Linked DNA regions of Homo sapiens: region 1 is linked to region 2. Evidence: fine-mapped expression QTL. Tissue or cell type: whole blood. Region 2 holds a variant in brackets; the other region holds the start of a gene. All regions are shown on one strand. Distances are from middle to middle.

Region 1 (2,500 bases), 610 kb after region 2:
GGGTGTGTGTTTCTGTGTGTGAGTGTGTGTGCTGGGCAGCAGGCTGCTGAGTGGTAGTGATGCTGTTAGGCTGGGGTGGGGAACCAGTGGCTGGAATGGGCGGTAATGTCTTTGTCCTCTACTTGCAGATCCACTCCTTATACCGCCGCACAGGTGCCAGCTTTCAGAAGGCCCAGCAAGAATTTGCTGCTGGTGTCTTCTCCAACCCTGCGGTGCGAACCGCAGCTGCCAATGCAGCCGCTGGGGCTGCTGAAAATGCCTTCCGGGCCCCGTGACCCCTGACTGGGATGCCCTGGCCCTGCTACTTGAGGGAGCTGACTTAGCTCCCGTCCCTAAGGTCTCTGGGACTTGGAGAGACATCACTAACTGATGGCTCCTCCGTAGTGCTCCCAATCCTATGGCCATGACTGCTGAACCTGACAGGCGTGTGGGGAGTTCACTGTGACCTAGTCCCCCCATCAGGCCACACTGCTGCCACCTCTCACACGCCCCAACCCAGCTTCCCTCTGCTGTGCCACGGCTGTTGCTTCGGTTATTTAAATAAAAAGAAAGTGGAACTGGAACTGACATCCCCGTTTCCTGAATCTTCATTGGGAATTAGGCCTTATGAAAGAGAAAGGAGAGTGTGGAGTGAGGTGGGAAGGTCGGACCCGGCTTTAGTGTAAACTGGGAGATATGAGGGGCGGGGCGGTGGAGCCCGAGTGGCTGGCGCAGGAAGGAGGTGGGAAGTCCACGGAAACGCGAAACCCGGAGACGCCAGGGAGCCCTGCTCCCCACCCCTCTCCATTAATGACGGGGAAGAGCCACCGCCTCTGCCGGGAACGCCAAGGAATACGCGGGCCTGGAGCCTGAAAAGCTGGATGGGGCTCAAGTGGAGGCCCAAAGGATCACTAGCAGCCTAGCCAGGGTCCAGAGCGAGGCAGGGACTGGAGGAGCGCTTATCCGACTGCCTCGCCCTGCCGCGGGATCCCCCAACCCCGACAGGGTCTCAGTCCCGAACTACAACTCCCGGGGTGCACCGCGCCGGCCCTCGCCGCCATGCCCCTCCTTCCCGCACCATCCCCATTCCCATCCCCCTTCTCTAGTCCCCGACCTGCGGCAGCCGGAGCTCGGGGAGCGGAGCGTGGTGGGGAGGGGAGCGGGACAGGCGACACAGGAGACAGCGGCGCCGCGGCCTCTCCCCACCAGGCGGCCCCGGATCCTACTGGACGCCCTGAGGGCACACCGACCGCGCCTCTAGAGTCACCCCACGCCGACCCCTCCCCTCTTCTCTAGACTTATTTCCATCCTTCCCGCTTTTACCCTCCCCACCCCTCCCTGGGCTCCAGGCCGCCGCCCCCTCCTCACTCCTGGACCGGCCCTTCTCGGTGCCCCTCTTCCCTAGGGAGATGCGATGAGCCGGTGCCCCCGCGTCCTCATCGTCGCCCCGGGCACGGTGCCCGTCCAGTGCCCGTGGTGGGGAGGGAGCACTCCGCGGTCCCTCCGTGACGCCCCTCGCTTGGCCCCCCCCACAGCTGGCGTCCCTCGGCCATGCCCCAGGGGACCCAGCCAGGGGGTGGGCTCTAGAGCGAGTGGGGTGGAGAGGAGAAAGGACGGGGCCTTGGGCGCCTCTGAGATGCTCCCAAGTGCCAGGGAGGGCCGAGCGAGGCGCAGGCAACCGGGCAGCAGGCATGATGCCCTCGCCTAGTGACTCCAGCCGCTCGCTGACCAGCCGGCCCAGCACCAGGGGCCTTACCCACCTCCGCCTCCACCGACCCTGGCTGCAGGCCCTGCTTACGCTGGGGCTGGTCCAAGTGCTCCTGGGCATCCTGGTGGTCACCTTCAGCATGGTGGCCTCTTCCGTCACCACCACCGAGAGCATCAAGAGGTCCTGCCCGTCTTGGGCTGGGTTCTCGGTGAGTTGGGTGCACAGTTGTTGGGTGGGGGAGGCTCCTCGGGCCCCACCCTCCACACCAGCTGCAAGTCCACATGCTTGCCTCTCCTCCCTCTCCTGGTCCTCTGCCTCCTTACAGGGCTGGGTGCATCCTGTGGTGAGGGGCTCACTCAGGAGCCTCCCCTGCCAGGCTGAGCCTGTGCCCACTCTGTCCCCAGCTGGCGTTCTCCGGGGTGGTTGGCATTGTGTCCTGGAAGCGGCCATTCACTCTAGTGGTAGGTGCCAGGGTCCAGTGCCCACTGGGAGGCAGGTGCCCAGCACGCAAGGGGAAGCCCATTTATGTCCTCAAGAAGGGAACTGGCTCCCCAGTTGGTGCCAGCCGGGTGGGCACGAAGTGTCTGTGAAGGAGGGGGACTCTGTCCGTGGCAGAGGAGTACTCATGAGGGTCCCAGCCCTGAGTCTGCACCCTGTTTTCCCCAGATCTCCTTCTTCTCCTTGCTTTCGGTGCTCTGTGTCATGCTTAGCATGGCTGGCTCTGTTCTCTCCTGTAAGAATGCTCAACTGGCCCGAGACTTCCAACAGTGCTCTCTGGTGAGATTTGAGGAGGGAGAGCTGGAAAGAACTGGC
Region 2 (2,844 bases):
CATTGCACTCCAGCCTGGGCGACAAGAGTGAAACTCTGTCTCAAAAAAAAAAAAAAAAAAAAAAAAGACATGTACATGGTATCATTTACACCCCTAGGTTAGGGTTGGGAAAGGGAAGCTGAGGGAAAAATTACTGAATTATTGTCATAGCTTCTCAGCTGTGAAAAATAAATTCACTGGAGGAAGATCACATCATTTTGGAGAGGAAATTAGCTCCCATATCCCTGATATAATGAAGGATCTACAAATGGTAGGCCAGCCTGTTCCAAGTAAGCTGGACAGCATCAGGATGCCAACCACTAAGTGAAATGGTGAAAGCTATTGAACCTTCTCTCACCAGGAAGTTGCTTCTTAGAGGAGACCTCATCTGCCAGGCCCTCTGTCTTACTCTGACCACTGCTTATCCTTGACATCCAAGAGCTTCCTCTCTACAGCCCTTCTTTGCCACCCAACCCACTCCCCTCCCACTTCCATTTATCCCCTGAGATATTTTCTCCCCCAACCTACCATTGCTCCCCAACACACACTTCCTACTCACCTGGATATTCCTTTTGATGATGTCCCTGGTCAGTTGTACCTTGCCTGTGCTGGGGTCCACCCCTGCCAGTGGCACCATGACCTCGCCAATGACATCATCCCGAGAGAAGCGGTCAAAGCTGAGGACAAGGAAGTGCAGCACCAGGTCCTGCAGCTGGCTGTAGGGGATGCCATAGAAGGTGAAGGTCTCGTCAAACACAGGGTCCAGGGTCTTCCGCAGCACTCTGGTCTTCACCCGATGCCGTTTGTCAGGAAGGATGGTCATTTTGATGTAGGGGTCAGATCCCTGGGTCTGGTCATCCATCACTGGCAGCCCATGGGCCTCCTGGATTGTCACCACCAGGGCTTTTTTCGGGAAGTTATAGTCCACTGAGAAGGTGAGGGATCCTAGCATGACATCCTCCTCTGGAGATGATGGAGAGGTGGTTTTGCTCTCCCCAGGGGTCAGGCTTGTAATAGGGCTCCTTAGTTCTTCCCCATAGTCCATTTTGATGGGTAATTGGTCTATACAAGATCCAGAGCTAGGCCCCCTGGGATCTTTGTCTCGGCTTAGCAGGCCAGCCTCTGCTGCGTCCACCAACAGGTTCCTACGTCCACCTTCCCTCCCAGGACCATCTTTGTCTCTCCGCACTTTGATGATTTTCTTCTTGTTGCTGAGGGTCTCTGGGTATATGCTGATGCCTTTGAGCATGTGAATAAACTTGTATGGTGGGTTCTTCTGCTTCTTCTCTGCCTGCTGGTGGCAGCATGACCAGACAAAGACGGTCACCGAGACACACACCACCAGCACAGAGGCCCCGATGAGGCCGGCCACCACCGGTGACACATCTGAAGGCGGAGATCAGAGATGTGTCAGGGCGGGTGGACTTCACCTCCTGTCTAGATCTCCCCTGCTCATTGCCACTGCTGGAGCCAAGCTAATCTTCAATCTAGCCTCTAAAGCAAAATGTGCTCATCTGGGCTTCAGAATTTTTCCCTTCTATTAGAGGCACCCTCTCCCAACCTCTCCAACCACTCCACGGCTTTTCCTCCCAGCCTTCTATAGAAAGCCTTCTCTGAAGCACCCCACTTGACTCTATGTTCTTTCCTAGACCTTCTCTCAGCACTTATAGACTTGGTTTGCTCATACTGATTTGTGCTTCACATAAAGCTGCTCTGTA[C/T]GTGTTCTAAGATCACCTTTTTACATGAGCACCTGTTCACTTCAACTGTTACACAAGATGTTTGGTTTCAGGATATTCCATAGCATCCAGAACAGGGCCTGCACTGACTGACTCGCTGTCAGGCTAGGGTGGAAGGGTGTGGAGATGAGTTTAGATGGTCTTGGTAGGGTGTTCAGGGTAGTAAAAATGGATGGGTGCCAAAAGGAAGAATTCTGGGTTTATGTACTTTTAAAATATGTTCCAAAATTTTAGCTCCCAGGTATATAAAATACAAGGCTGGGTGCAGTGGCTCACACCTGTAATCCCGGCACTTTGGGAGGCTGAGGCAGGTGGATCATTTGAGGTCAGGAGTTCAAGACCAGACTGACCAACATGGTGAAACCCCGTCTCTACTAAAAATATAAAAAATTAGCTGGGCGTGGTGGCATGTGCCTATAATCCCAGCTACTTGGGAGGCTGATGCAGGAGAATCGCTTGAACCTGGGAGGCAGAGGTTGCAGTGAGCTGAGATCGTGCCACTGCATTCCAGCCTGGGTGATGGAGCAAGACTTCGTCTCAAAAAAAAAAAGGTATTCCTCCAGGATGAATATATCCATTGTAGGCAAAAAAATAGGTGTGTGTATGTATGTATATATATATATGTGTGTGTGTGTGTGTGTGTGTGTATGTGTATATATGTATATGTGTGTGTATATATGTATATATGTGTGTGTGTATATATATGTATTTATGTATACATATATTATTCTAAATAGGAAGAAATAGAGACTTTCTCTTTTCATTATTATTACCTTAATAAATCCTTCACTGGAAGAAATAGGGGTTTTCTTCCCTATTAGTGGAAAATGTCAGATCTCTGCTCAAATGTCACCTTCTTAGGCCTTTCCTGACTCACCTATTTAAAAGTGCAATCTTCTCCATCCTCACCACCCACTCTTCCTAGCCTTGCTTAATTTTTTTCAACATGCCGTCATTCTCGCTCTCTGATACACACACCCCTACACATGTAAGAAAAAAATATATAAAATACATACACAAATATGTAAGAATAAACACCCACACGCATATTATTTTACAATTTATTATTTATCTTCACTAGAATATAAGTCTCATGAGGACAAAAATTTATGTCTGTTTTGTTCACGGC

The links. PIP is the estimated chance that this variant, and not a neighbour inherited with it, causes the effect.
Region 1: ENTREP3 starts here. The variant in region 2 is fine-mapped to the expression of ENTREP3 in whole blood (TOPMed, PIP above 0.99).

What each region holds. Positions count from the first base shown.
Region 1 is chr1:155,254,048-155,256,547 of GRCh38, reverse strand. It overlaps ENTREP3 (endosomal transmembrane epsin interactor 3), which reads left to right and starts at 1,065. Exons shown (of 12, transcript NM_006589.3): 1 at 1,065-1,895; 2 at 2,092-2,148; 3 at 2,354-2,464. The coding sequence starts at 1,671. SCAMP3 (secretory carrier membrane protein 3) reads left to right here. Exons shown (of 9, transcript NM_005698.4): 9 at 129-567. The coding sequence ends at 275.
Region 2 is chr1:155,866,486-155,869,329 of GRCh38, reverse strand. It overlaps SYT11 (synaptotagmin 11), which reads right to left. Exons shown (of 4, transcript NM_152280.5): 2 at 539-1,365. Among named protein-coding and RNA genes, the nearest start is that of SYT11, 8.3 kb to the right of the region's middle. The variant C/T (reference allele first, on the strand shown) is at 1,698.